2 separate regions of the Homo sapiens genome follow, and region 1 is linked to region 2. A link means that fine-mapping ties the variant in region 2 to the expression of a gene that starts in the linked region. Tissue or cell type: whole blood. Region 2 holds a variant in brackets; the other region holds the start of a gene. All regions are shown on one strand. Distances are from middle to middle.

The links. PIP is the estimated chance that this variant, and not a neighbour inherited with it, causes the effect.
Region 1: CDV3 starts here. The variant in region 2 is fine-mapped to the expression of CDV3 in whole blood (TOPMed, PIP above 0.99).

The regions. Positions count from the first base shown.
Region 1 is chr3:133,567,716-133,577,952 of GRCh38, forward strand. CDV3 (CDV3 homolog) reads left to right here and starts at 5,971. Exons shown (of 5, transcript NM_017548.5): 1 at 5,971-6,569; 2 at 7,324-7,400. The coding sequence starts at 6,330. RefSeq lists enhancers at 4,960-5,199, 5,142-5,643, 5,300-5,469 and silencers at 5,850-6,389, 6,410-6,519, 6,550-6,939.
Region 2 is chr3:133,590,229-133,600,463 of GRCh38, forward strand. TOPBP1 (DNA topoisomerase II binding protein 1) reads right to left here. Exons shown (of 28, transcript NM_007027.4): 28 at 10,010-10,235. It overlaps LOC124909437 (a long non-coding RNA gene), which reads right to left and starts at 8,849. Exons shown (of 2, transcript XR_007096110.1): 1 at 8,328-8,849; 2 at 7,947-8,234. It overlaps CDV3 (CDV3 homolog), which reads left to right. Exons shown (of 5, transcript NM_017548.5): 5 at 1-33. The variant A/G (reference allele first, on the strand shown) is at 6,966.

The DNA.
Region 1 (10,237 bases), 23 kb before region 2:
ATGGTGAAACGCTATCTCTGCTAAAAATACAAAAAATTAGCTGGGCGTGGTGGCGCGTGCCTGTAGTCCCAGCTTCTTGGGAGGCTGAGGCGGGAGGATCGCTCAAACCCAGGAGGCAGAGGTTGCAGTGAACCGAGATCGCGTCACTGCACTGCAGCCTGGTGACAGAGCAAGACTCTGTAAAAAAAAATAATAATAAATAACCACAGACCCCCCACCGTGTAATTATAAATCAAGATACATGCCATCATCATCATCACCATCATCATCCCTCACACTAATTGTAACATTAATTGGTTTTTCTATTTGCCAAGCACTAGAGCTGAGTGGTCTTAAATTCATGTCCACATTTCATCCTCACAACTCCAGGAGGCAGTTGTGCTTATCATCCATACTTTACAGGTGAAAAAACCTGTGATGCAGAGAAGTTAAGTGACTTGCTAGGAGGAGGCAGAGCTGGTACTCGAACCTAGATTTGACTCTAGAAAGCATGCGCTTGACCACCAAGTAAAAAGCAAGGTCCCCGAGAGAAAGTATAGGATTTGCCTTCCACCCAGCACGCAGAAGGTTTCCCTGCACTCCCTGCACTCTGACCCTCTCTCTGCTTTTTGTCAGCCTAAAGAGGATGACAATACCATTGACCTAGTGACCTAGTAACCAGGAATACGGAGGCTCTGAGTCAGAAGCAGAAAATGCCAGACAATCTCACATGTAGCTGTTGGATCATGAAGTAAGATCAAGAATGGAGCTAGGGTCAGGAACAGAATAATCGTGTCTTGCCCACGTAATTATACCCCTTGCACTCTGTGATCAAAACGATTGAGTCAGAATGTCTTGCTTTGTGCCAGAGTCGTTTGACTGGCTCCCAAAGTGGCCACCCAGAGTAGCTTTTCCTTGGCGAATTTGCCACAGAGCTGAACCTGGGTCATAGTCATATCAGTGTCCTGTCAGGGTTCATCTCCCTGAAAAAGCCTGACTCCCAGCAATCCAACTCATAAGAGGCCAAACTATATAACCACATACATACCAATGTATTCATTAACAGTGTTAGTCTTTCAGTAACTGGAATGTTCCTCTCCCAACTAGGGCACCCTTTTCCCAATATCAGCAGTCTCAGAGAGTCAAGTTAGTCATCAACAGGCTGGTTGGTGAGTGTATCCCAAGAGTTAAGGAAAGCTGACCTTTTGAGGGCTATTTCAGCCAAATCAGGGTGCGGTCTACTGAATCATCTCCACCTTACAGCAGGGCACGTCTATGTGAAAACAAATTTCACACTGCTCTTTCTTGGACAGTGGTGGGTAATAAGTGCCAACTTCTGGCCTCATGGCTTTATCCTATTTCTTTTTCCTTCCTCTTTTCTACTCTCCAGGCTCTTCCCTCATCCTTCAGTTCACACATTCTCCATACAATAAAGTTGATTCGGTTGCTGATCATTCAATTGTCATCACATTGCAGCCCTTCCCTCACCGAGACACTCAAGGAGGTCACCTTGATGGATAGGTTGGTTGTTCCCAAGCTTTTCATTTATTTACAGAACTTTTTGGTTTATTTTCTAATATGTTAGGTTTAACCTTTTGAAATGATTGTTTTTGGCAGGTCAAAAACAGTCAAATAGCAGCAATTTTATGTGGTTCAACAATCAGCAAACCAGACCCATTGGGGGTGGGGTTAATGAGTCTGACTCCCTTCTCAAGCCATGGTGGTGGGTGTATGTGTGTGTGTGTGTGTCTGTGTCTAGGAGAAGGGGGGTGTATGGCAGCCCTTTTCTCTTTCTGGAAATAAGCTCTCCTGGATAGTTGCTGTTGTCTGGGGCCTCCTCTTGCTCTCCATGTATCCTCCAACTAGGACCCTAATGTCAAAAATGAGCTAAGGAGGAACTTGAGGTTGAGGGAGAAGGTTGAATTATTTGTTATGTGTGGCAGAGTTAGCCTATGCTCATAAGCCAACAAGGAAACACTTTTAGAGTCCATGATTTGTGCAGTCCTCTGTTAATGTGGAAAACTGGAGATTAATGGAGACATTTTTCATTTTACAAACATCAGTTAAATGCTTGTGTGATATAGGCTATATGCTCAATGCCATTCCTGCCTTCAAGAGTTTTCAATGTGCTTTTGTAGGTGTTCCTGTGTGTCTCCTTCTAGTTACCAGCTTAGTGTACAATAAGCTCTGTGAAGGCAGGGCTTATCTCTCCTTTAACTCCTAACATAGGGCCCGGCATATAGTAGGTGCTCATTAAATACATGTTTTATATACTTGAGTGAATGAATGAGAGTGGTTAAATAACAAACCAATCATGCGAATACCAGGAAGGCATCAACGATCATACCAAATGAAAAGACTCTGGGCCTCTGAAGTTTAGGAAATCAAGCTGCCTGTAGAGAATAAGAAAAGACTCCCAGAAGAGATGACCTGTAAGTAGTTGCTCCCCAGTTGAAAAGGGGACAGTTCAGGCAGTGGCATAGTTGGCCTTACAGATGTTAGAGAGGAAACCAGAAATGAAAAGAAGAATTCTAGCCACCCATTTCCTGGTGAACACTTTGGCCAGCATGAGCTGCATTCCTTTGAGCTGAGCATGAGTGGAATTTCCAGCCTAGGTAGCAGAATGGATCTTGGATCAAATAGCTCAGCAGAAAAGAACTCAGAAACAATGGGGCTGGGCTCAACTGCCCTTTGCCAGCTCTTGAGCTCATGGAATATTGGAACTCAGCAGGCCTTGTTGAGGGAGATATATGATGTCCTTCGGATTGCACCACTTCAGAGGACCCAGAGGGAAACTGCCATGTTCAGACAGCATTAGGAACCTTGGAAGATGTGCAGAAATACCTGGGAATAGTCTGCATTACTATACAAGTTTTCCATCTGGCAAGTACAAGTGAAAGTCTGTTTGCTTTAAGTATGCAGACGGTCCAAACACATTGGACAGCAGAGGGGAAGACACCTCTGTCAAGAGAGAGCTGGAGGAGCCGGGCACAGCGGCTCCTACTTGTGATCCCAGCTACTCAGGAGGCCAAGGCAGCAGGATCAATTGAGCCCAGGAGTTCCAGACCAGCCTGGGCAACATAGCAAGATCCCTTTCTCTAAAAATGTAAAAAAAAAAAAAAAAAAATTCAGCTGTACATGATGGCACCTGCCTGTAGTCCCAGCTACTCTGGAGGCTGAAGCCAGAGGATTGCTTGAGCCCCGCCTCTTAAAAAGAAAAAAAGAGAGAGAGGGCAGAAGGATGCTTCAAAGATGAGGGGGTGTCTGGTAACGATGATAATGATAGCATGATTCAGGGCACTGTGCAACCAATCTGGAGAAGGGTGGTAGGGGAGGTTTAAAAGGAGCAACTGATGGGAACAGATGCTGTCAATTTTAGGGCAGGTGATTCAAAGAGGAAGGGACCAGCTTCACAGAGGAGAGAATTACTACAAACAATGACACAACCACAAAGACACTGGTCTCTCTACTGGCCTGACCTGAATTTCTTACACATGATCAAGTTCTGGGATCATGCCATCAATCACACTGAAAAATGTAGTGGGAAATTCTGCAGCGTCAGCCCTCAACTACTGTTCCTTCTGTGTATTTTCTCAAGTCATTAATTCTTTCAAGACAATGATGAATTGATAAGGACTTAAGAAAGATATAAATAACTGAAACTTATTTATATCTAGATCTTCTCTTCTAGATTATAAGGGAATTGAATGCAGGAATCACAAATTACTCACTTTTGAATAAAGCACTTTGCCCGAAATATAGCAAAATAAGTGCTTCATAGATGAGGAAAGAAAGAGAGGGAGAGGGCCGGGCATGGTGGCTCACACCTGTAATTCCAGCACTTTGGGAGGCTGAGGTGGGTGGATCACGAGGGTCAGGAGTTTGAGACCAGCCTGGCCAACATGGTGAAACCCCGTCTCTACTAAAAATACAAAAATTAGCTGGGTGTGGTGGCGGGTGCCTGTAATCCCAGCTACTCAGGAGGCTAAGGCAGGAGAATCGCTTGATCCTGGGAGGCAGAGGTTGCAGCGAGCTGACATGCCATTGCACTCCAGCCTGGTGACAAGAGCAAGACTTTGCCTCAAAAAATAAGTAAGTAAATAAATAAATAAATAAATGAAAGAGAGGGAGGGAGGAAGGAAGAAAGAGGGGGGAGGAAGAAAAGAAGGAAAGAAAAGAGGAAGGGAGAAAAAAGAAGGAAAGAAAAAAAAGAAAGAAAATAAATTTGATTAGCGATGGTAAGGGAGGGTGATGGTGATGGGCAGTACTGAACCTGGCCTGCATCACAGGAAGATATATGTTGTCATAGAAGGAAGTCACCTTGGGAGCTGTTCATGTTTGGGGAATAGTATATGTATAAGCTCAAGCTACTTGCTGGCCAAGGCTAGGTCCTTGATTTCTTTTGACATTCAGAAGTTAGACTTTTTTTTTTTTTTTGAGACGGAGTTTCACTGTTGTTGCCCAGGCTGGATTGCAATGAGGCGATCTCGGCTTACTGCAACCTCCGCACCCCCGGGTTCAAGCAATTCTCCAGCCTCAACCTGTAGCTGGGATTACAGGCGTTAGCCACTACGCCCGGCTAATTTTCGTGTTTTTAGTAGAGACGGGGTTTCATTATTTTGGTGAGGCTGGTCTCGAACTCCTGACCTCAGGTGATGCGCCTGCCTCGGCCTCCTGAAGTGCTGGGATTACAGGCGTGAGCCACCGCGCCCAGCCAGAAGTTAATTCTTTAATAGCAGTGTAAGTAGGGGGTAGGAAAAGAGAAACTTTAATGGGGTAACTGTAAAGGAAAAGACGAAGAAGTCTCTCCATTTACTGGCTGGATTCTATCTACCCCATATGGCTACCAACATTTGTCTGAGTCATTTCCTCAATGGTTGTGACAGCTCCCTCTTCTGCTTTTAGAAGGAGGAAGTAGAAAGTTTAAGAGCTTACTTTAGACCACCTTTTGCATATAGAATTCATTTCATTTTCAAGGCCCCAAGGGTATTTAAATGGGCTTTAAACCCATTTAAACCTGGCTTTCGCCTGGGCATTTTGGTCTCCACCCCTATGATAAGACAGTCCCCTCCTTTTATCAGGGATAGAAGCTAAGGATAAACTGTATCATCATCTAGACTCAAGTCAGGGCGTTAAGCAATGTGCTGAGCAGCTAATAATGTTGACTCTCTTCCCTCCATCCCCCTATCTTGTAAGAAATAGTATACCCACTTTACAGATTAGGGACTTGACGATAGGATTTATTGAACTTGACCTTGGTAAACATAATCCAGAGGGTGGAGTTCAGACAAAATCCCTTTCTACCTACCAACCAGCCTATGAAAGATCTTTTAGTAAATGGGACCTAAACTTCAGGCTCACTGCTCCTCTCACTTTCACAATCAACCGGTAAAGAAGAAAAGTAATGGTTGCCACTCCAGAGGGGGTGGAAGTACAGAAGCGATCAGAGGAGAGGAACAATCTTTAACACAGTTGGCTTAACGCAGTGCCTGTCCGTTTCGCGACAGTTCAAACGACTACTATGGGGCCACGGTTTGTTCTGGGCCAGGAAACACACGTGCATCCTGCGCATGCGTCCAAAAGGAACCCACTGCCCCTCCTGCTGGACCTCTTTAGCCAAGTCATCAACCAGCCCTCAACATGCCCGCCCTCAAGACTAAACCCTCGGCCAATCGGGAAACCGGAGTCGCCCGGCACGTCACTTATTTTGCATATGCCCTCCTCTCCCCGCCCCCATGCTTGGACTCCGCCCCGTCTGGGTCAGGGATTGTCACCTAAGAGCTTCGTCCTGGCACCTGATTGGCTCTCTTTCCAGCTCCGCCTCCATCTCCTCCCGCCGCCCGCCCCTTGGCGATCCCACAGCGGCAGGCAGAGCAAAATACGCAGGCGCAGGCGCTTCCTCTCTCTTCTAGCGGCCCGCCCTCCCTCCTCCCTCTCCCTCCCCTCCCCACTCCCTTCCCCTCCTCTCCAGGCCTGCGCGCGCGCCTCTTCCTCCGGCACGCGCCGCTGCTAGCCGAGCACTCTCGCCAGAACCTCTGGCTCGCGCGTGCCTTTTCCCCTCAGGTTGTGGGGAGAGCGGAATCCTGCTCCGCCGTCGCAGCAGCAGCGGCAGCCCCGGCAGCCTCGGGCGACAGCGGCGGCGCGCGAGCCCCCGGGCGGACCGTACCACCGCTCGCCAGCACGCAGGGGGAGCCGCCCGTCTCGCCGCGCACGCCTCGGCGACCCCGCGGGGCTGAGGCGTCGCCGCGCCCGGCAGCGTGAGCGCAGAGCCGGCCTCGACCCCGAGCTCGGAGCCCCGCGGGCCGCGCCCGCCGCCGGCCCCACCCATCCGGGTCGAGGAGGCCGAGGCCATGGCTGAGACGGAGGAGCGGAGCCTGGACAACTTCTTTGCCAAGAGGGACAAGAAGAAGAAGAAGGAGCGGAGCAACCGGGCGGCGAGTGCCGCGGGCGCAGCGGGCAGCGCCGGCGGAAGCAGTGGAGCCGCGGGTGCGGCGGGCGGCGGGGCGGGCGCGGGGACCCGGCCGGGTGACGGCGGGACCGCCAGCGCGGGGGCTGCGGGCCCAGGGGCCGCCACCAAGGCTGTGACGAAGGTGAGGGGCCGGGAGGCCGGCACTCGGGGCCCGGGCCGCGCGCCGGCGCCCCATGTGCCCGCCCCCGCCTGCCGGGGAAGCGTCCGGGAGGGGCCGCGGAGGCCGGGCGGACGGGCGCGGGCCGCCACGTGACGCAGGCTCTCCACCTCGGGCTGGGCTCGCCAGGGCCGGGACCCCTTCCGATATCCGCGGTGGAGCCGCCCTTCCCACCCCGCGTCGCTCGGCGTTAGCCAAGGCCCGGGCGGCGCCACCCTCCGGGGGCACTAGGTCTGGGGCCGCAGTGCCCAGCACAGAGCAGCGTTTATCGGGTGACGTCTAGGCTGAGTAATTCCGTGTGCTGACCTCAGCCCAGTAGTTTGAGCTGAATTTTCGCTTTCAGCAGCCGCATTTGTAGCAGCTCTTTTGTGATGACTTAGTCTCTAAGCCCGTGAAAGAAAAAGAAAACTCTCGGTGGCAAGGTTGAAGTAGAAATGTAGTTGTGAAATTCCTATTGACTTCTTCCTTCGGCTTTTCTTAGTTGCTTAAAGTAACAGCTCCCATGCAGGAACCCAGCGGAAGTATAGTGTTAGCCTACGAGCATGTTTGTCCTCCATTTAGCCTAGTTTGCCCCAGAACGAAGCAAGGGCTTTGACCAGAAGACAAGTACATACTTAGTTTAGGTTCCAGCCACTTGATCCACTTTTCGTAGTGTGTTATTTGCTTAGTTATATGTCTACAAATAGCTTTAATTGATCAAATGGCGTTTGTTTTACAGGACGAAGATGAATGGAAAGAATTGGAGCAAAAAGAGGTTGATTACAGCGGCCTCAGGGTTCAGGCAATGCAAATAAGGTATAGTCTGGTTACAAATGTGTTTAGATAACCTTTGGGATAGATATTGGATACAAGTTAGGTTTTCCTTTGGCCCCAAAGCAGCATCATAGTAGCCTTGTGCTCTAGATATGCTTATTAGGACTCAAATGGGTTCTGTCTACTCTTTCTCACTCCATGGAGGCAGCCCTTCCGTGTGCTCATGAAATTAGCTGCTGACTCTAAAATCCTGTGAGAGCTTGCCTACTTCCAGTTCTGGTTAGGACTTTTCATTTGAGACAGCTAAAGTGGATTTTGTCGCTTCAAAATTTTTACTTTTAACATCGGTGATTGTACTTAGTTTTGGTTTCAAAAGTAATGTGGATGTTTTTCACATCCTCTCCAATAAGCAAGTGAATATATGTTTTTGTAATTGAAGTATATCATACTTACAGAGAGATAGAGGTTTTATGTGTTCACACAGTGCAACCAACCTGTGCAATAAGCACCAGGTCAAGAAACTGAGTATTACTGATACAGAACAAGGTTCCCCTCCTAACACATACTCACTGCATTCACCTTCAACATAACCACTATTCTAACACCATAATTTTTTCTAAAACTTCATAGGAATGGAATTATATTTGTAAACATGTTATTTTTTAAAGTTCAAAAAAATAGTAATTTTTAAAAATTGGGTAGTTTAGAAGATTTGAAATTAACATTTTGTCAAGTCCAGTCTATGGCAGTCAACTTTAAGGTTGATGTTAAGTAAGTGCTATATTTTGGAGGGTTCATAAAGTAGGAAAAAACAAATGAAGATATGGTTCTGCTGTAAGATGAAAAAATCCTTTGCTCCCGGTTTAAAGAAATAAAGGATCTTGATAAACTGTCTCCAGTTTGAAGGTTGCATTTTATAGGCAATGCCAGTGAGTGCGAGGCACAGTGGAGGAAATACTTTCCTTAACTGAAAACTGTCTTTTGACTTCTCTGGATGTTAGTATCTATAGCTTTAGATAACTTACTCAAAAAGCAGGGTTAATATTATTGACATTTGTTGAACACCTACCACAGCTAGGCATTAATGTCCTACTGTGAAAACATCATTTTGTGAGCTTAACCAAAGTGAAACCCCCAGATTGATAATGGGAAACTTTCAGGAACGATGGCTTCTCCACTCTTGAGATTTCTTTGTAGTGGTGTTGAGTAGAAGTGATTAGACTTGAGTTTGATTCCCAACCACTTGTTGGCTTCCTTAATGTGTCTTTCTCTTTTCTGTCTCCTGGGGCTTGACCTGTAAATAATGGGGAGGAGGGAATGTGAGGTTCTTACCATTTGGTGTTGTGGAACTGCCTGTGTGTGTGGCTCCGGTTCTGTTGTAAAGTTTGGCTCTTCTTAAGTCTTTTCTTTCCTAAGTGACTGCAGGTTCTTGAAAACGTGAGTGACTGGAAGAATAGTGTTTGGCCATGTTGAACTTGGCAAAATAGCACTTTTCTGAAGATAAAATTTTGGTTTCAAGTTCACTGAGGATTAGAAATTGATTTTGTTAAACTATGGAGATTATTTAAACAGAACCTGTGTTTTTCTGTTACTGACTATAAATTACATGTTCATCTTCAGGGTTATTTTGATCTTGATCTATTTTGGTTACTTTTGAGATAGTGAAAAGTGTCTTAAATAACTTACATACTTCACCCTTGCCAGGGATATAAGTAAGTATCAGCTAGTACAAGCATTTAAGTTCTGTTCAACCTGAAGGTAGACTAGCTTTTTTTTTTTTTTTTTTTTTTTGAGACGAAGTTTCCCTCTTGTTGCCCAGGCTGGAGTGCAGTGGCAAAATCTCGGCTCACTGCAACCTCCGCCTTCTGGTTTCAAGCGATTCTTCTGCCTCAGCCTCCCGAGTAGCTGGGATTACAGGCGCCCGCCACCACACCTGGCTAATTCTTGTATTTTTAGTAGAGACGGAGTTTCATCATGTTGGTCAGGCTGGTTTTGAACTCCTGACCTCGTGATCCGCCCGCCTCAGCCTCCCAAAGTGCTGGGATTACAGGTGTGAGCCACAGCACCCGGCCTAGACTAGCTTTTATATTGTTTTTTTTGTTTTCTTAGCATCTAGTCATTGGCCCTAAGTGGCCATCCTAGTAGAGGTATTCCACTAACCTGCAACACTGAGAAACACTCCTTCCCATATGTTCTTCACTCAGATCCACCAGTCTCTGCTACATGTGCTTTATCTTTTTCTATTTCTCGGTATACTGAGAGCTGCAGATGTCACATTCAGTCTTTTTTTCTTTTTTTTTTTTTGAGACAGAGTTTCGCTCTTGTTGCACAGGCTGGAGTGCAATGGTGCGATCTCAGCTCACCGCAACCTCAGCCTCCCGGGTTCAAGCGATTCTCCTGCCTCAGCCTTCCGAGTAGCTGGGATTACAGGCATGTGTCACCACGCCTGGCTAATTTTGTGTTTTTAGTAGAGACGGGGTTTCTCCATGTTGTTCAGGCTGGTCTCAAACTCCCGACCTCGGGTGATCCACCCACCTCGGCCTTCCAAAGTGCTGGGATCACAGGCATGAGCCTCTGAGCCCAGCCAGATGTCACATACAATCTTAAAGTTCTTGACCCTGGTCCTTATAGTAGTTAGCATATTAGTTCTTTACCTGTACATTTGAAAGGGGAAATTTTTCATTAGCAGCAAACGTATTATATATTAAGATCCTATTTCACATTTACCAACCAGCTCAAGATTTAAGTACCAAGGTACTTAATGTGCCCAGTTTTGTGTCTGAATTAACAGATCTTATTCAAGGTCATGCTGTTATAGACAGATTCTTGAGAGGGAAGCCATTGAGGTGGTTATAAAGGAGGCTGTCATTTGAGTTAGA
Region 2 (10,235 bases):
ATTAACAAATTCAATAAAAAGTAAATATATGGATTTTGGACTGTAATGGTTATTTTAAAGCCTTATTCTGTCTTTGAAAATGGTGAGTTGAGGTCACACCTCTCTTGCTGTGGGAAGGTGAAGATGCTCTAAACTCAGGGGTGTACTTTTTTTTTTTTTTGAGACAGTTGCTCTGTCGCCCAGGCTGGAGTGCAGTGATGTGATCTTGGCTCACTGCAACCTCCGCCTCCCTGGTTCAAGCGATTCTCCTGCCTCAGCCTCCTGAATAGCTGGGATTACAGGCGTGCACCACCACACCCAGCTAACTTTTGTATTTTTAGTAGAGACGGGGTTTCACCATGTTGGCCAGGCTGGTCTTGAACTCCTGACCTCGTGTTGCACCTGCCTCGACCTCCCAAAGTGCTGGGATTACAGGCGTGAGCCACCGGGCCTGGCCAGGAGTGTACTTTCTGTTTCAGAAGTGTTTACAGAGTACTCAAGCATAAAAAAGACCGATGAGGATTTAGGCAAACCAAAGACAGTAAAAAAAGAAATAGAAAATTTAAAAAATACAACACGCATGAAAGTGGCTGCAAAGCTGTGACAAATATTTTTGGAAAACTTGAAATACACATTTGTCCTTGTTGCTGTATTAAATTTTGTTACCTTAAACTATGGCAAAGGAATCTAAAATCTTTATATAGACTAAGGATTTAAGGCTTTGTTCGATTAATCTTACAATTCTCAAAAACAGTAATTTTAAATTTCAGGATTTAGTTTGGATTATAGTCCCTCGATTTCTAAATTAGCAAAAGTATATTTCAGTCATTTTGGTAGTGGAGTTTAAATATGTAATGTTAACAATTTACTATTTGATTATTCTTTGTGCTTGATTGAGATCTTTTTTTTTTTTGACAACCTTATTTAAGATAGAACACACACACAAACTCACACTCTATCAGTCTTCCCTGCTTTAATTTCTTCTATAGTTTTAACTTTTTAGATAAAAGTCACTCTTTTCAAAAAGAAAAAAAGAGACAGGGTCTTGTGCTGGAGTGCAGTGGCGCAATCATAGTCCCCTGCAGCCTTTAACTCCTGGGATCAAGGAATCCTCCCGCTTCAGCCTGCTGAGTAGCTGGGATTAATGTGTGTGCTACCAAGCACTATTTTGTTTTTTAAGAGATGGGGTCTTGCTATGTTGCCCAGGCTGTTCTCAAGCTTCCTGGTCTCAAGCAGTCCTCCTCTGCGTCCCAAAGTGCTGGAATGTTTTACAGCCACTTTGGGAGCCACTACACCTGGCCAAAAGTCACCTTTTGAAGTGTACAATTTAAGAATTTCTTATATTCTCAAAGTTATGCAACCATCACCACTCTTAAAATTCTTGAACATTTTCATCACCCCAAAAAGAAATTCTATTGTTATTAGTCATCATTTTCTTCTTTCCTCCCAAATTCCTCAGTCCTAGGCAGCCACTATTGTATTGTCTCTAGTTTCTTTTTTCTGTTTTTTTTTTTTTTTTTTTTTTGAGACAGTCTTGCTGTCACCCAGGCTGGAGTGCAGTGGCACATTGTCAGCTCAATGCACCCTCCGCCTCCCGGATTCAAGTGATTCTCCTGCCTCAGCCTCCCCGAGTAGCTGGGATTACAGGCACCCACCACCACGACTGGCTAATTTTTGAATTTTTAATAGAGATGGGGTTTCACCATATTGGCCAGGCTGGTCTCAAACTCCAGACCTCAGGTGATCCACCCGCTTTGGCCTCCCAAAGTGCTGGGATTACAGCTGCATGAGCCACCGTGCCCGGCCTAGATTTTCTCATTCTGGTCATTTCATATAAACAGGGTTATACAATTTGTTTTTCAGAGACTGGCTTCTACACTTGTTTTTGAGCATGTTTTTGAGGCTTAGCATGTATCAGTGCTTCGTTTTTATTGCTAAACAATATAGGTAATTGTATGGGTATACCACGTTTAAATTGTACATTCATCTGTTGGACATTGGGGTTGTTTCATTATTATGAATGATGTTGCTATGAACTTTCATGTACAAGTTTTTGTATCAACATTTCCAATTCTCTTGGGTATATACTTAGAGATGAAAGGCTGTATCACTTTGAGGAACTGCCAAACTCTTCTAAAGTAGCCTCACCATATTATATATTACTATTCCCACCAGCAGTGTCAGAGGATTCCAGTTTCTCCAATATCCTTGTGATCACTTGTTTCAGATTGGTTCTAGTCTTCCGAGTGGGTGTGAAGTATCTCATTATGGTTTTATTTTGCATTCCTATAATGACTAGTGATGTTGAGCATCTTTAAATGTGCTTACTGGCCATCTGTATGTCTTTGGAAAAATGTGTATTCAAATCCTCTGCCAATTTCTAAATTGGTTTACTTATAATTTTATTGTTGAGTTGCAAGTGTTTTAAATTTCAGGTGCTACTTCTTTGTCAGATACATGAATTGTAAACATTTTCTCCTACCATTTTTCCCTTTCTTAGAAGTGTCTTTTGGAGTACAAAATTTTCAATTTTGATGAAGTCCACCTTTTCTATTCTTTAGTTGCTTGTGCTTGGGTGTTATATCTAAGAAAACATTGCCTAACCCAAGTCATAAAGATTTATGCCTATTTTCTTCTAAGAGTTTTATGTTTTTAGCTCTTTCATTTAGGTCTTTGGTCTATTTTAATTTTTTTTATTGTGACTTAGGGCTCCAGCTTCATTCTTCTGCATGTGACTACCAGTTGCTCAGCACCAAGACTCATAGTTTTTGGGGGATTTTTTGGTGGTTGTTTTTGAGACAGCATCACCCAGGCTGGAGTGCAGTAGTGTGATCATAGTTCACCGCAGCCTTGGCCTGGGCTCAAATGATCCTCCCCGCCTCAGCCTCTCAAGTAGCTGGGACTAAAATGCGTGCCACCACACCCAGCTAACTTTTTTTATTTTTAGTAGAGATGAGGTCTTGCTATGTTGCCCAAGCTAATCTCAAAACTCCTGAGCTCAGGTTATCCTCCTACCTCAGCCTCGCGAAGTGCTGGGATTACAGGTGTGAACCACCATGCCTGGCTTGTAGTTCTTACTCTTTATTTAGCACACTAAACATTTTGGTTGTTTATCTCCCTCTGTTAGAATGTGAAATTGGTCTGGGGTAGGTACACGTAGGTGGAGATGTCAGGAGGTTAAGAGTGTGGGGTAGGAATTTAGGACAGGTCATGCTATGGGTGTCTAGACTGACAAAGGAACAAATGAGGTCACGATTTCAAGTTAGGGAGTGCAAACAAATTAATGGAGGTAGTCAGATCAGAAGGAGAGCCAAGAAGTTAGAAAGTCATATGGACAGGTGTTCTAATAACTAGCATCCTGAAACTGCAGGTTTGTAATGGTTTTAATTCACCAGTTACTACAACTAGGTACTAATGGGGCCTGCAGAATGCAGGCAAGTTATGAATTGCTTCTCCTGGGCTTGAAATAAAGATAATGAATATTATGAGTGATATATTGAGTAAGAAATAATTGCTTATTTTATCTTTTTGACACAGTTTCACTCTGTCACCCAGGCTGGAGTGCAGTGACACGATCCCAGCTCACCACAACCTCTGCCTCCCAGGTTCAAACAATTCTTATGCCTCAGGCTCCCCAGTAGCTGGGATTACAGGCGCATGCCACCACGCCCGGCTAATTTTTTTTTTTTTTTTTTGTATTAGTGGAGACAGGGTTTCCCCATGTTGTCCAGGCTGGTCTTGAACTTCTGACCTCAAGTAATCTGCCCACCTCGGCCTCCCAAATTGCTGGGATTACAGGTGTGAGCCATCACACCTGGCCTTAGAAATAATTGCTTTAAATAATCTTATTTGTATTATCTAAAATAGGAATTATGTTCACATCAGGAATTTAGGATATACATAAAAGTAATCATTAAGGCAGTTCAATTCTTTTGAATTTGCAGCCCAAGTGGGAACTAGAATTCTAAATAATTGGATATAGTAATACAGACGATGGGTAGGATTTAAGTCATCCACTTTAAAAGTCTTTTTAATCCCTCAACCTAACTGTTCAGGGATCCAGTCAAAGCATGCCCCAAGAAACCTCTGTAAAATGGTTCATCTCCAAATATGATGGAGAGTAGCACCCAGCCTTCGCAATTTTAATCATAAGAAGTGGAGCAACTCTGTAAGATTATGTCCATGGTTCTCAAACTGCTGCATTTTGGAATAACCTGGGAATCATTAAAAAAAAAAAAAAAAAAAAAAAACTCGCTGGGTGCGGTGGCTCACGCCTGTAATCCCTGCACTTTAGGAGGCCGAGGTGGGCGGATCACCTGAGGTCAGGAGTTCAAGACCAGCCTGGCCAACACAGTGAAACCCCATCTCTACTAAAAATACAAAAATTAGCCGGGCACGGTGGTGGACGCCTGTAGTCCCAGCTACTCAGGAGGCTGAGGCAGGAGAATCACTCGAACCCGGGAGGCGGAGCTTGCAGTGAGCCGAGATGGTACCATTGCACTCCAGCCTGGGCTACAGATCAAGACTCCGTCTCAAAAAAAAAAAAAGTGATGCCCGACTCCCACATCCAGACATTCTGAATTAATTAGTATGGAGTGTGACCCGAGCAGAGGAATGTTTTTTCAAGTCCCATAGTTCTAATGTGCAGCAAAATCTGGGAACCACTGGGTTATGTCAAAAAATGATAAATTATTTCCCTAGTAGGCAGTTGGAAGACAACCATAGGGCTAGCTCAAGCAGGAAATCCCTTAAATTGCATGCTTAGACCAGAAATGATTATCATATTCCTAAATGCATTTTTGGATACTGTTAAATGAGGGAAAGTGGATACTGAAGTTGGAGGGAAAGACTTGTCAACTGAAATAGTAAATTTCTTTGATTTTTTACAAAACTACACATTTTTGTAGTTCAGTAGTTATCAGTATATAAAGACCATTTTTAATATCTTATCTGTCATTTCTTAGATAACTGCCTCATCATCAATGTAACTTCTGTAGCTACTCGTTATCCTTCTCCAACAATACTTCCATGATGTTTGACTTGTCTTTTGACAGCAGATCTGACCATTCCTGAGTTTACTCACTGTAAATGTTAATCTGCCTTACACTACCCCTGGCCACTTTAAATTTGCCCTTTCATTATGTTGCTCAGTTATAGCACCTCTGGGTTTTAAGAGTTTCTTTAGAATTCTGCTATTCTTCCTGGTGACTATGAATTCAACCATAATTAACCTTACCAGAGATAAGCTTTGGCAGCCGCAGAATCATATAGCTCATCTATTTAAGAATCAGAACCTCAGGCCAAGTGTAGCTTGTACCACCTACACACTCTGGGTCTGTGACTCACCTTACTCACCAGTTCCTGCCTTTTAAAGATCATGTGGGTTATACTTAAGCATCTTTTCATAATGAGGTGTGGGCACAGACTGGAATCTCTTAGGTTTGTCTTTGGTTTTATTATAAATTGCTGGGACTACTATGGCTTCCTTATTGGATTTCTCTGATTTTACAGTTCAAATGTATGTCTTTAATTAGAACCTGAATTAAACAGGGAAGTCAGGGACTCCCAACCTCAGTGGCACCATGGTAATGGGAGTGAAGAGGAGGTTGCAAGCTCCCATTATATTCTTTTGTTCTGTCCTGACATCCTCTTCTTTTTTTAAAACCTTAGCTCCAGCTGGCAAAAGTGTTAAATCACTTACTGGAATTTTAAAAAATTGTATAGTTTTTAACCTTGAGCCAGGCAACAGGTAACAAATGTTGACTCGTTTAACCCTGAAAGCCCCTTAAAGAGGGGAAAATAGGTTCTGAAAGGTTAAATAGCTTGCTGGAGTCATAGCTAGTAATGAAAGAGCCAGGACTCCAACCCAGGTGTTTTGGCTCCAGCATGTTTTTAACCATGAGGCTTTGCTTCCACTCTTCACCTTAGATTTAAGTAAGGGTAGAGAAGGAACATGATAACCAAATGCTCCTTCGAAATGACTTGAAAATGCTGTTTGCCCTGTTCCCATCCCAAGGTCAGCAGGGATGCATTAGAGCCTGACTTCTTCAGTCTCCCCTCAAAGCAGCAGAAAGTTCTTTTTTTTTTTTTTCTGAGACGGAGTCTCCCTCTGTCGCCCAGGCTGGAGTGCAGTGGCACAATCTCGGCTCACTGCAACCGCCACCTCCCGGGTTCAAGCGATTCTCCTGTCTCAGCCTCCTGAGTAGCTGGGACTACAGACGCCCACCACCACTCCCAGCTAATTTTTGTATTTTTCTCCCAGAGATGAGAGTTCACCACGTTGGCCAGGCTGGTCTCGAACTCCTGACCTCGGCCTCGGCCTCCCAAAGTGCTAGGATTACAGGTGTGAGCCACCACGCCCAGCCAAAACTTGATAATTTTCATTGCAGATTTCCAAATGTTAAACAAGCATGAGATGGCTCTGCTTAATGCTACTACTTGTCATGCCAGACTGCTATTGACTCTAGTGGGGATGGTACCACGTGAGGGAGGCTGAAGAAGAGATGTGGAGCCAGTGAATGAGACATAGGGTTTATTGTGGACTTACATTACACAACAGTCCAGGAGCAGTGGGCTGGACAGGAAAATTGCTCCTTTTTTTTTTTTTTTTTTTTTTTTTTTTTTTTTTTTGAGACGGAGTCTCGCTCTGTCGCCCAGGCGGGAGTGCAGTGGCGCGATCTCGGCTCAGTGCAAGCTCTGCCTCCCAGGTTCACACCATTCTCCTGCCTCAGCCTCCCCAGCAGCTGGGACTACAGGTGCACGCCGCCACACCCAGCTAATTTTTGGGTGTGTGTATTCTTAGTAGAGACGGGGTTTCACCGTGTTAGCCAGGATGGTCTCGATCTCCTGACCTCGTGATCCGCCCGCCTCGGCCTCCCAAAGTGCTGGGACTACAGGCATGAGCCACCGCACCCGGCCAAAAATTGCTACTGTTTTTTAAAAGCATGCAGTCTAACATGTCATTTTCACATAGCAACCTCTACCTA[A/G]CAACTTCCACTTAACCCAATACAAAGGGCCACCATCCCCTATACAGCCTGCATTCCAAGGAATGGGGCAGGGGTATGGACATCCGTCATTGATGATAAGGAGTCAGTCTCTGGACTGGCCACTCCTGGATTCCTTAACTTGGAACTCCAAACATACATTCTTCTTAGACCACAGGGTCACTTCCCAGGGTATGCCTGAGTTGTTGTCAAGTATGTCTGCCATAGACTGCTACTCAGGATGGTAGAAAAGGAGCTGAGTGGCAGGGCGCGGTGGCTCACACCTGTAATCCCAGCACTTTGAGAGGCTGAGGCGGGCAGATCACTTGAGGTCAGAAGTTTGAGACCAGCCTGGCCAACATGGCGAAACCCCATCTCTACAAAAATAGAAAAGTTAGCTGGGCGTGGTGGCACACGTCTGTAATCCCAGCTACTCAGGAGGCTGAGGCAGGAGCATGGCTTGAACCCAGGAGGCAGAGGTTGCAGTGAGCTGAGATCATGCCACTGTACTCCAGCCTGGGCAACAAGAGCGAGGCTCCGTCTCAAAAGAAAAAAAAAATTGAGCTGGGTGCCTTGCTTGTTGACAGATCTAGATTTTAAAATCTTTTTAGGGATAGAAAATAAGGAACAGTCAACTATGGCCCACTGCTTATTTTTGCATGGCCTCAAGCTAGTAATGATTTTTATGTCTTGAAAGGTCAGAAGGAAACCAAGCCCTGATACAAAGCAGCCTGTATTAAAGCACTTCTAGGTGAGAGGTGTAAATGTGAAATAATAGGTTTGCATTAGAGCAGTGGTTTGTGACTTTTGGGTGGAAAGTCACAGATCCAAACTCTAGAATTATGAACTCTACCCTAAAAATGCTCATATACAAAACAGCCTGTTCCATTCCCAGGCATCTCAGGCCCCAAAGTAAGAACCTTATTACTGTTAATATTGTTACTGGTCTGCTCAGGCTGCCACAAAGGAACATCACAAGCTGAGTGGCTTAAACAGAAATTTATTTTCTCACAGTTCTGGAGATTGGAAATCCAAAATCCAGGAGACGGCCAGGGTTGGTATCTGGTGAGACATTTCTTCCTGGTGTGTAAACAGATAGCTGCCCTCCCCGTGTCCTCACAGGGCTTTTCCTCCGTGCCGGCAAACTCCTGGTGTGCCTCCCTCTTCTTACCAGGACACTAGTCCTGGTGGGTTAGGGACTCATTCTTATGACCTCATTTAATCCCCTTATAAAGGCTCTGTCTACAGTCACATAGCAGGTTAGGCTTTAACCTGTGAATTTTAGGGGGACAAGCTCAGTCCTTAACAGTGTAAATACTAAATCTGAGTATAATTGAGTACTGTATTTACAGTAAGGATTCCTACCTCTTCAAGTGCTAAGGGACCATGTGTTCCAGGTGGTTTGTTGCTGAATCCTAGGCACAGGTTGAGGATTCCTACCTGTTGAATTAACGAATGTTGGTGAGATCAGACTAATGCACAGGAAAATTCGTGGAGGGATATAAGGTGATAATTTAAATATCACAGATTAAAATATCGTAGCCATTCAGAAAAGAAACTCATACTAATCTAATCAAGGCAAGTTCTGCCCCCTCCCCTTTTTAAACAAGAAGACTACCTATGCTTGGAATTATTTGTATATAAGAGGATATTGTTGCTGGCATTAGGACATTTACAGATTAACAGCCAAAGCCAGAGTTCAAGTGGCTTATACAGAGTATGGGCAGATGCTGGAAAGTTAGGAGGAGAAACTGAGACCTGGAGCCTTAAATGGTAAACTGTGTGTCTAAGTTTGAACTGGAAAACCATTCATAATTTTGGCAGAAAAGAAAGTGGTATATTAGGTAATTTAAAAAGTAACTATTTCAAAGAATTTTTTTTTTTTTTTTTTTTGAGATGGAGTCTCACTCTGTCACCCAGGCTAGAGTGCAGTGGTGCGATCTCGGCTCACTGCAACCTCCACCTCCTGGTTCAAGTGATTCTCCTGCCTCAGCCTCCCATGTAGCTGGGATTACAGGCACGTGCCGGCACACCTGGCTAATTTTGGTATTTTTAGTAGAGATGGAGTTTCGTCATGTTGGCCAGGCTGGTCTCGAACTCCTGACCTAAAGTAATCTGCCCACCTTGGCCTCCCAAAGTGCTGGGATTACAAGTGTGAGCCACTGTGCCTGGCCTATTTCAAAGGATTCTGAGTAATAAAATTCAGGGAAACGTACTACAATCTACAAAATGATTCAGCTAAAATAAAATAGCTCTGATAAAGACAGGCCCATGTGGTTTTTGTTTGGTGGGAGGGGGACAGTTTACATCATAATGCTACCTATTTCTCTGTGTAGAATTTGTATTGTCCTAAGCTGTGAACTAGCTCAAAGCTGAAAACCCTGTAGGACCAATCCTCTAGCAGCAGGGATACCCTCAACTCCATTTTGAAGAAAATCTGATGAAAATTTAAGGGATTTTGTGTCCAAGTTGAGCACTCTCTCCTTCACTGTTTGAATCTGCCTTTCAAAAAGTCATTTGGAATTGAACGGTTTACATCAAAATTACATTCCTAACGGATTCTAGTTTGTCCTTAAAATGAAATTAGGTGTATTTATAGAGAATTCTGGTAACGCATGTAGTATTAGGTGTTTAGGTTTAGCATAATAAAGGCTAATGCAATACAGAGTTCCAATAACAGTATGTTTTAATCTAATAGGGCAATATTCTAAATAACAAATATCAGAAATGTTAAGCAATTCATTTATTTTTTTTGAGACAGGGTCTCATTCTGTCACCCAGGCTGGAGTTGCAGTGGCATGATTTCAGCTCACTGCAACCTCTGCCTCCTGAGTTCAAGTAATTCTCATGCCTCAGCCTCCCAAGTAGCTGGGACTACAAGCATCAAACAGCATGCCCGGCTAATTTTTTGCTATTTTTTGCAGAGATGGGGTTTCGCCATGTTGTCCAGGCTGGTCTTGAACTTCTGGGTTCAAGCAGTCCACCCACCTTGGCCTCCCAAAGTGGTGGGATTACAAGCATGAGCCACCGTGCCTGGCCTGCAATTCTTTTTTTTTTTTTTTTTGAGATGGAGTTTCGCTCTTGTTGCCCAGGCTGGAGTGCAATGGCGCGATCTCAGCTCACCGCAACCTCCGCCTCCCGGGTTCAAGCGATTCTCCTGCCTCAGCCTCCTGAGTAGCTGGGATTACAGGCATGTGCCACCACACTGGGCTAATTTTTTGTATTTTTAGTACAGATGAGGTTTCTCCATGTTGGTCAGGCTGGTCTCAAACT